Regions from separate parts of the Homo sapiens genome. Here region 1 is linked to region 2. Evidence: fine-mapped expression QTL. A gene starts in region 2. The other region holds a variant in brackets. All regions are shown on one strand. Distances are between the middles of the regions. Region 1 overlaps FBXO46 (F-box protein 46). Region 2 holds the start of DMWD (DM1 locus, WD repeat containing).

Evidence for each region. PIP is the estimated chance that this variant, and not a neighbour inherited with it, causes the effect.
Region 1: its variant is the best candidate, but not a certain one, in a credible set for the expression of DMWD in Th1/17 cells (Schmiedel 2018, PIP 0.55).

The regions. Positions count from the first base shown.
Region 1 is chr19:45,719,989-45,725,361 of GRCh38, forward strand. The region is part of intron 1 of FBXO46 (F-box protein 46); the gene reads right to left. Among named protein-coding and RNA genes, the nearest start is that of FBXO46, 8.2 kb to the right of the region's middle. RefSeq lists an enhancer at 662-1,162 and silencers at 2,043-2,337, 2,083-2,377. The variant C/CA (reference allele first, on the strand shown) is at 2,773.
Region 2 is chr19:45,789,968-45,795,340 of GRCh38, forward strand. DMWD (DM1 locus, WD repeat containing) reads right to left here and starts at 2,878. Exons shown (of 5, transcript NM_004943.2): 1 at 2,349-2,878; 2 at 938-1,120. The coding sequence starts at 2,789. RefSeq lists enhancers at 1,249-1,308, 1,329-1,378 and a silencer at 2,527-3,006.

The sequences.
Region 1 (5,373 bases), 70 kb before region 2:
GTTTTTGTGAGTGTGTGTTTTGTTTTTTGTTGTTTTCTGAGATGGTCTCACTGTCACCCAGGCTGGAGTGCAATCTCGCCTCAACGCAGCCTCAATCTCCTGGGCTCAAGTGATCCTCCCATCTCAGCTGCCTTCTTTTTTGTTTTTTTTTTTAAGACGGAGTCTTGCTCTGTTGCCCAGGCTGGAGTGTAACGGTGCGATCTCGGCTCACTGCAATCACTGCAACCTCTGCCTCCCGGTTCAAGCGATTTGCTTGCCTAAGCCTCCCAAGTAGCTGGGACTACAGGTGTGCGCCACCATGTCCAGATAATTTTTTCATTTTTAGTAGAGATGGAGTTTCACCATGTTGGCCAGACTGGTCTCGAACTCCTGACCTCAGGTGATCCACCCCACCTTGGCCTCCCAAAGTGTTGAGATTACAGGCGTGAGCCACTGCACCTGGCCTAATATTTGTATTTTTAGTAGAGACAGGGTTTCACCATGTTGATCAGGCTGGTCTTGAACTCCTTACCTCAAGTGATCCACCCGCCTCAGCCTCCCAAAGTGCTAGGATTACAGGTGTGAGCCACTGTGCCCAGCCTATCCCAGCCTTTTGAGGAGCTGAAACCACAGGTGTATACCAGCACGCCCAGCTAATTTTTACATTTTTTTGTACTGATGAGGTCTCACTATGTTGCCTAGGCCAGTCTTGAACTCTTGAACTCAAGCAATCCTCCACCTTGGCCTCCCCAAGTGCTGGGACTACAGGCAGGAGCAACCACACCAAGTCAGAACTTAGAATCAAAGATCAGCTGACTCCAGAGCTCAAGGTCTAAACTACAATATAAACATCATCCTGGCTGGGCGCAGTGGCTCACACCTGTAATGTGGTGGCAGGCTCCTGTAATCCCAGCTACTCAGGAGCTTGAGACAGGAGAATCGGAGAATTGCTTGAACCCAGGAGGCGTGGCTGCAATGAGCCGAGATTGCACCACTGCACTCCAGCCTGGGTGACAGAGCAAGACTCTCAGCCAAAAAAAAAAAAAAAAAGAAGTGAAGCGGGGAAAAAAACAACAGAATAAACCAAACAAATAAGGAAAAATAGGCCACGTGTGGTGGCTCGCGCCTGTAATCCCAGCACTTTGGGAAGCCGAGGCAGACAGATCGCTTAAGCCAATGAATTTGAGACCAGCCTGGGCAACATGGCAAAACCCCGTCTCTACTAAAAATACAAAAATTAGCCAGCATGTGCCTGCAGTCACAGCTACTCGGGAGGCTGAAGTGGGAGGATCGCTTGAGCCCGGAAGTGGAGGGTGCAGTGAGCTGAGATTTTGCCACTGCACTCCAGCCTGGGTGCCAAAGCGAGACCCTGGCTCAAAAACACCAAAACAGAAAGAAAGAATGGAAAAATAATGATAAATGGTAAAGCGTAGATGTCTGACCCCACCCCACTTCCCCATCCCCACCCCTAGTCAGATGACCCCGCTCCCCATCACAGGGCCAGGGTCACACCCAGCACAAGGCACTTGCCCAGTTACATGGGAATTGGTGGCAGGACACCAGGGTTTCGTTCCTGGTCCTGTTCCTTTTTTTTTTTTTTTTTTTGACAGGGTCTTGTTCTGTCACCCAGGCTGGAGTGCAGTGGCACGATCTCGGCTCACTCGAACCTCTGCCTCGTGGGTTCAAGCAATTCTCCTGCCTCAGCCTCCCAAGTAGCTGGGACTACAGGCGCCCGCCACCACACCCGGCTAATTATTTATATTTTTAGTAGAGTTTCACCATGTTAGCCAGGATGGTCTCGGTCTCCTGACCTCGTGATCCACCCAAAGTGCTGGGATTATAGGCGTGAGCCACCACGCCCGGCACCACCCCACCCTTTTTTTTTCTTTTTTTGAGATGGAGTCGTGCTGTTGCCCAAGCTGGAGTGCAGTAACACGATCTCGTCTCACTGTAACCTCCACCTCCCCTGCCTCAGCCTCCTGAGTAGCTGGGATTATAGGCACCTGCCACCATGCCCGGCTAATTTTCGTATTTTTAGTAGAGACAGGGTTTCACCATGTTGGCCAGGCTGGTCTTGAACTCCTGATCTCAGATGATCCACCCACTTCCCGTAGTGCTGGGATTACAGGCATGATGCACCGCGCCCGGTCCCTGTTCCTTCTATGCCCTACCCTGCTGCTCCTTTGTCCAGAATCCTGACTCATCCATACCTCACCCATGGCTTGTTGGCCTTAGAGTCCACTGGGTCCCCTCCCTTTTAAGTTTTCCTTTCTGACTAATGGTCCCTGAAGGCAGGAATCATCCAAGCCCTGAGATCCTGGAAGCAGACAGGAACCAGACAGGGCCTGCTGGATCCCAGCTTTCCCACCTCTGGCAGTATGACCTCAGGCAGGTTTTTCAGCCCCATGTGCCTCAGTTTCCCCCACTGTAAAATGGCAATAATGACAGCATCCACCCATGGGCTGGCTGACCATCCGCTGAAACAAACCCAGCAGAGCACCTGGTACCAGTTTGGCACTGAGGCGTAGCTCACACCTGTAATCCCAGCACTTTGGGAGGCCCAGGCAGGCGGATCACAAGGTCAGGAGATCGAGACCATCCTGGCTAACACGGTGAAACCCCGTTTCTACTAAAAATACAAAAAATTAGCTGGGTGTGGTGGCGGGCGCCTGTAGTCCCAGCTACTCAGGAGGCTGAGGCAGGAGAATGGCGTGAACCCGGGAGGCGGAGCTTGCAGTGAGCCGAGATTGCGCCACTGCACTCCAGCCTGGGCGACAGAGCCAGACTCCGTCT[C/CA]AAAAAAAAAAAAAAGTGGGCTGGGTGTGATGACTCATGCTTGTAATCCCAGCACCTTGGGAGGCTGAAGCGGGCACTTGAGGTCAGGATGAGACCAGCCTGGCCAACATAGTGACACCTTGTCTCTACTAAAAATACAAAAAATTAGTTGGGCATAGTGACAGGCGCCTATAATCCCTGCTACTCGGGAGGCAAAGGCAGGAGAATCGCTTGAACCTGGGAGGTGGAGGTTGCAGTGAGCTGAGATTGTGCCACTGCACTCTAGACTGGGCTACAGAGGGAGACTCCATCTCAAAAAAATAAATAATTAAACATAAAAATTGAAAGTGAAGGCTGTGGGTGGTGACTCATGCCTTAATCCCAGCACTTTGGGGGGCCAGGGCAGAAGGATCGCTTGAGCCTTGGAGATCAAGACCAGCCTGGGAAACAAAGTGAGACCACATCTCTAAAATAATTTTTTAAATTGGCTGAGCATGGTGGCATGAGCCTGTAGTTCCAGCTACTCGGGGAGGCTGAGACAGGAGAATCCGCTGGGCCCAGGAGTGTGAGGCTGCAGTGAGCTATGATCATGCCACTGCACTCCAGCCTGGGCAACAGAGGTGGGCCCTGTCTCTAAGTAAATAAATGAATGAAACACTTGTGGATTACTTAGGGAATGAACGCTAATTTTCCAGAGGAGGAAACTGACGTCCAACGGGATCAAATTACTTACCCTAGGTCACACAGCTGATGAGAGGTGAAGCCAGGACTCAAAGCTGGGCACTCTGGCTTTTTCATTTTATTTTTGTTTTGTTTTGCTTTTTGTTTGAGATGATCTCACGCTGTCACCCAGGCTGGAGTGCAGTGGTTCTGTCACAGCTCAATGTAGCTTCAACCTCCTTGGCCGCCAAGCCCAACTAATTCTTCTTTTTTTTTCTTAGACGCAGTCTCACTCTGTCACCCAGGCTAGAGTGCAGTGGCATGATCTCAGCTCACTGCAACCTCTGCCTCCCAGGTTCAAGCAATTCTTCTGCTTCAGCCTCCCGAGTAGCTGGGACTACAGGCGTGCGCCACCACGCCCAGCTAATTTTTGTATTTTTAGTAGAGACAGGGTTTCACCATGTTGGCCAGGCTGGTCTTGAACTCCTGATCTCAGGAGTTCAAGAAAAAAAAAAGAAAACTTGTGCTTTTAGGAGTAAGACAGCTTTACCATAGCAGTTAGAAATACATCATTAAACGTGGTAAAAAATACAATTTTTTTCTTCGTTTCCTAGTACATGTCACAGGTTTTGAAATAAAGATGGTAAAAATACCATTTTGTATGAGTAAGCTTCAGACAAGCACAGGCTGAAAACAAATTTAAGATTTCAAGAAAAGGCAAAATAACTTGGAAAGCAGACAAATGCTCTAAGACAAATAAATGAAGGCAACGGAAAACAAAAAAGTGTCAGATCACCCCAGGGTGGCCAGATGTGACACATAGGATCAGGGACAAGTGAGAGACTGGCAACTTTTCCCCAAACCAATAGGTTTTCAGATAATTCAATGAGGGCTGGAGACAGAATGTTAAAAAATCCATGAAAGCAGTGACAAGCAGGCCAAGCTGGCATAAGGGGCTGAAAATGAATTGGGAATAGAGAAACCCAAACTTGAAAATGAGCACAAATGCTCGCATACTTGCAGAACTGCCCTACCATTATGACAACAGCAAGTTCCCCAATGGCAGGGTCGAGTCTGCACCCAATACAGGCGCTGGCACATGGTAAGTGCTCTATTAACACTTGTGGGCTGGGCTCTGTGGCTCATGCCTGTAACCCAGCACTTTGGGAGGCCGAAGTGGGAGGATCACTTGAGTCCAGGAGTTTGAGAGCAGCCTGGGCAATATAGCAAGACCCTGTCTCTACAAAAAAAAAATTTCTTATTTTTTCTGTTCGAGACGGAGGCCTGCTCGTTACCCAGGCTGGAGTGCAGTGGTGCAATCTCAGCTCACTGCAACCTCCGCCTCCTGGGGTTCAAGTGATTCTTGTGCCTCAGCCTCCCGAGTAGCTGGGACTACAAGCACACGCCACCACGCCTGGCTAATTTGTATTTTTAGTAGAGATGGGGTTTCACCGTGTTGGCCAGGCTGGTCACAAGCTCCTGACCTCAAGAGATCTGCCCATGTAGGCCTCCCAAAGTGCTGGGATTACAGGCATGAGGCCACTGTGCCCCATCAACAACAAAATTTTTTTTTTAATTAGCTGGGCATGGTGGCAAGCACCTGCAGTCCCAGATACTCTGGAGGCTGAAGCAGGAGGATCACTTGAGGCCAGGAGCTTGAGGCTGCAGTAAGCTGTGACTGCACCACTGTACTCCAGCCTGGGCAACAGAGACAGGCCCTGTCTCTAAATAAATAAATAGGCTGCGGTGGCTCAACCCTGTAATTCTAGCACTTTGGAAGGCTGAAGTGGGTAGATCACTTGAGCTCAGGAGATCGAGACCAGCCTTGGCAGCATGTATTATTCATCTCTACAAAAATTACAAAAATTAGCCAGGTGTGGTGGCATGCCCCTGTAGTCCCAGCTATTTTGGAGGCTGAGGTGAGAGGATGGCGTAAGATCAGGAGGTGGAAGTCACAGTGAG
Region 2 (5,373 bases):
GTGAAATCCCGTCTCTACTAAAAATACAAAAAAATTAGCTGGGCGTGGTGCTGGGCGCCTGTAGTCCCAGCTGCTGGGGAGGCTGAGACAGAAGAATGGCGTGAACCCGGGAGGCAGAGGTTGCAGTGAGCCGAGATCGCGCCACTGCACTCCAGCCTGGGCGACAGAGCGAGACTCCATCTCAAAAAAAAAAATTAGCCAGGTATGATAGTGCGCACCTGTAGTCCCAGCTACTCAGGAGGCTGAGGCAGGAGAATTGCTTGAACCTGGGAGGCGGAGGTTGCAGTGACCCGAGATTGTACCACTGCACTCCAGCCTGGGCGACAGAGTGAGACTCCGCCTTAAAAAGAAAAAAAAAATTAAAAACAATAAAAATTACAATTACAATTAAAAAAAAAAAAAAGAACCGGGCATGGTGGCTCACACCTGTAATCCCACCACTTTGGGAGGCCGAGGTGGGCAGATCACGAGGTCAGGAGATCGAGACCATCCTGACTAACACGGTGAAACCCCATCTCCACTAAAACTACAATAAATTAGGCGGGCGTGGCAGCAGGTGCCTGAAGTCCCAGCTACTCAGGAGGCTGAGGCAGGAGAATGGCATGAACCCGGGAGGTGGATCTTGCAGTGAGCAGAGATCGCGCCACTGCACTCCAGCCTGGGTGACAGGGTGAGACTCCATCTCAAAATAAATAAATAAAAGAAAGAAAGAAAGAAAGAAAACCCAAGGAGTAAAGTATTCAGCACAAGGGTAACACAGCACAGGGCCTGGGTACAGTAAAGGCAGCTGTCATTAGCTGCTGTCACCCCATTCTCCATCTCTCCCTGGTCCTGCCCCTCTCAGGCCTACACTGTTCCGCAGGCAGCTGCATCCTAATGGCATATAGTGGGTAGGTGAGAAGGCAGAGAAGTTGGGGGCTCTGGGGGCTGCAATCACCTCCTCATTGAACAGCTTGCTGGTGTCCTTTTTGATGAGATCCAGGTACTGCACTTGACCCGCTGAGAAGCCCACCAGCAGCGAGATGGTCTCGGTGGCAGCAGTGAACTGGTTGAAATCGTGGCAGGTGGGCTGGGTGCCCTTGTAGATCCGCTTGTCAATTGGCTTGTTGAGGTCAATGGACTTGAGGGGTGGGAGAAAAGGAGTTAATGGTGTATGCCACTGAGGAGAAGGAAGAGGATGTTGAGGTTGGGGGAAACCACTAAGAGGAAGCAGGGTTAGAACCCAGAGGGAAGTGGGGAGGTGAGTAGGTGGATTGCGAAGGACGGGGCAACCACAGACGGGAAGGGGACCCAAATCACAGACAAGAGTAGCAAAAAAGATGGTAAGGATCCCCCTTGACCACAGTGCCTCCCCAAAGTTGGGTCACCTCTAATTCAGAGACACCCTTGTCCACATAATCAGGGTTCTGGGTCCACACAGTTCCTAAGCTCCGATTCCTTTTAGCCTCACCACTCCATCCTATAACCTCAGCAACTCCCTTGGGACCTAGTACCACACTATTCCAAGACCCCCAAACCTTGAGGTCACCCAAATTTCCAGGACTCTAAAGCCTAACATCCTAGCATTCTCTTCACTTTGTAGTCCCTAAACCGCCACAGTTCTGGGACCCGTCAAACCTCACGGTCTCCCACATTTTAGGCCCATTTATTACCTAGGGGCTCCGAAGGATCCCCATCATTTCTGGGATCACCATAAACGGCCAGGGTTCTCACCACATCGCTTTAGAGATGTCCTGAATCACACCTGCAGATTCCCCTGCCAGGGCCTCTCATTCCCTTGAGAGCTCCCATCAGCTTCCGGACGCTCATCTCCTCCAGGACCCTCATGACTTCCAGACCCCAATTTTCTCTAGAATCCCATTCAGCTTCTGGATCCCCTATCACCTTCAAGGCCCCCATCACTTCTAGACTTCTCCTCATTCCTGGGCTCAATCTCAAGACCCCTCTCCCACACCTCCAGGCTGCAATACTGGGTTCTCCATCACCTCTGGGCTTGCATCACCTCATGATTCCCCATTACCTGCAGAATGCCTGCCACCCCAGAACCCGGGGGATCCCACCTCATCTCAGATACCCCATCATGTCCAATAGTCACCATCCCAGAACTCCTACGCATAACGGGGGTAAAGGGGATTTCCCCCATCACCTCCAAGATGCCTGCCCAGCACCCCGCGGGCCTCTCATCACATTTCAGAATCCTGTACTCCCTCCAATGCTGTCGCCCTACAACGTCCATCACATTTAGAATGCCTATCTCAGGGCCCCATATCAATTCGGGGACCCTCCTATCAGTTCTCTGGAACCTCCATCCTTTCAGCACCCAGGGCCCCACGATGCAGGCCGCTCACCCGTTGGCTCCCACGACGACAGCAGCCTGGGTAGAAATAGAGCTCACGGCCCAAGTTGAAGCAGACGCGGTCTCCCCCCGAGCCCAGCCCCGCGGGCGTGGCGGGCGGCTCCCCGGCCCCGGCGCTGTCCGGCTCCCCGAGGCGCACGAGGCTGAGGCGCACGGCGGGCAGGGCGGGCCCGGGTCCGGGGCCTGCGGGCGGCGGGGACGACGCGGGGCCTGCAGCGCCGGGACCGGAGGCGGAGGCAGGGCCGGGCGGGGGCTGCGGTGGCTGAGGCGGCACCGGAGTCTGGGCGGAAGCCGGACCCGACCTGCGAGCGGCGCCGTCGCCCGGGAGTAGCTTGTAGAAACCCTCGCGCGTGCGGAATTGCGACTTAATCTCCGCGCAGTCCCCCATGGCGGCGCCGGGGCCCGAGCCGCCCTCCGCGCCGCCCGCCGCCATCTTGGGCGCCCCCCGGGCCCCGCCACTGCCGGACTGCCGCCCGCAGCCGGGCCCCCTCCCGGAAGCCGCTGGCCCGCGCCGGAAAAGGTGGGGTCGTCGCCCGGGCAACGCCTCTTCGATTGGCACCCAGATCCGGAGGCGGGACGAATCCCCGCGGTCGCTCGGGTAACGGTGCTGGGACTGTGGGCGGGGCGAGAAGGTGGGCGCGGCCTTTGAGCCTGTGACCGACTTGTGGTTGGCTGCGGGGGCGGAGCCCGCAATGGAAAGAGGCGTGGCCAGTTAGAAAGCTCAAGTCCTTAGCAACCGCGCCCTGGGAACGTTTGCCTAGCAACGGAGGGATTTTTTTTTTTTTTTCCCCCACGACAAAGAAGCCCTCATCCATAGTCCAGCCTTCCCATGAAGTCACAGCCAACCCCAAGTGACCCTGGTCTCTCCTTAGACGCCCAATATACACTCCCCTGACCTCCAGTGTTTCCCACTGACATATTCAAATCCCTGAATGACCACAGCATCTGCTACCATTCTTCCCCACCCTTGGTGACCCACCAAATCCCTGTGTCCCCACACAACTCAGAGGACTTCCTCTGACCCACTATTGATTAATGCTAACTCCAAACATCCTTCATATTTTCCACCAACCTCCAATGTATATTTCCATGATTTTCTTATTTTCAACAACCTCACTTGTCCTCCAAAACCTACCTCTGATTCCCAAATTGTATTGATCCCCACGGTGCCCCAGTGTCCCAGTGATCCACTCGTAACCCAAAGTCTCCCCCTGATCCCAACAGCTCCTACTCATAGCCAGTGCTCCCCATGTCTGCTGAAGCCACCCAGCCCCATCATAGATCTTTCTAGTCTCATGTAGTCAATGGCCTCTACGATTTCTCCCTAGAGTGTCCCAAGGGCATCTCACACTTAAAAAAAAAAATCCTACAATGGTTCGGGCATGGTGGCTCATGCCTGGAATCCGAGAATCCCAGCACTTTGGGAGGCTGAGGTGGGAGGATCGTTTGAGCCCAGGAGATCAAGACTGCTATGAATTCACATCACTGCACTAAAGCCTGGGGGACAGAGTCAGACTCAGTCTCTCTAAAAAAAAAAAAAAAAGAAAGAAAAAAGAATCCTACAATGAAATTGACGTCTTACACCAAATCCTCCACCTCTCTTGCATCCCCACCTTAGGGCTAGCTCTGCCGTCCACTCAGTCAACCAGGCCACAGACCTGGGTGTCTTCCTAGATGTGTACCATTTATCTTCACTCTGCCCCCGCTTACAGCCTCCAAGTCTTTTGCATTCGACCACGTGGAATTCCTCTTTCTCAGTTCCTTGTTCTCCCTGATCCAAGCTTCTCCTCTACCCAAGCCCTTCCCCCACCCCCACATCAACCGTGTCTCTTGGTCTCCCAGATTTCTGTCTCACCCCCACTTCCACCTTTCACTTGGCATGTAGAGAGGTTTTATTTTGTTTTTGTTTTTGTTTTTTTTGAGACAGTCTCACCCTGTCACCCAGGCTGGAGTGCAATGGCTCCATCTCGGCTCAGAGACGGGGTTTCACCATGTTGGCCAGTCTGGTCTCGAACTCCTGACCTCAGGTGATCCACCCACCTCGGCCTCCCAAAGTGCTGGGAGTACAGGCATGAGCCACTGCACCCGGCTTTTTTTTTTTTTTTTTTTTTTTTTGAGACAGAGTCTCGCTCTTGTCACGTGGGCTGGAGTGCAATGGGACGATTTTGGCTCACTGCAACCTCTGCCTCCTGGGTTCAAGTGATTCTCCTGCCTTAGCCTCCTGAGTGGCTGGGATTACAGGCACCTGCCACCACACCCAGCTACTTTTTTGTAGTTTTAGTAGAGACGGGGTTTCACCATGTTGGGCATGCTGGTCTCAAACTCCTGACCTCAGGTGATCCGCCAACCTTGGCCTCCCTAAGTGCTGGGATTACATGTGTGACCCACTGCACTAGGCCTAGAGAGGTCTTTCTAAAGCATGAATATGATCAGGGCCCTCCCCTGCTCAAAACCCATCTGTAGCTCCCTAGTGCTCTCAGGGGAAAGTTAAGCCCCAAGTGATCTGGCCCCTGCCAACCTCTTTTCAATCTCATATCTCACCACTAACTCCTCACACTATCCACCACCTAAAATGAGGCTTGAAAAACTACCCCAACATATCACACTCTCTCTTGTCCTTGGGTCTTTGCACATTCTGTTCCCTATTCTTGGAATGCCTTTCCCCATTCTTTTCTTGACCCTTTAAGAGTTGGCTCGGGAGCTCTGTCAGTCCTCTGGGCTTCCCCATTTGGGCTGTCACTGTCTGGAAATGAGTCTCTCTCCCTATAGTGTTGTGAGGTCCAGGAAGGCAGGACTGCAGCTGTCTGTGTCCCCAGCACAGGGGTGGGCTGACAGGAGGTATTTCAATAATGGTTTGATGGCTAGGTAAATGAATAAATAAAACAGGTGGGGCTGGTCGCGGTGGCTCACAGCTGTATCCTAACACTTTGGGAGGCCAAGACAGGCAGATCGCTTGATGCCAGGAGTTCAAGACCAGCTTGGGCAACATAAACCCCATCTCATAGTGAGACTCTGAA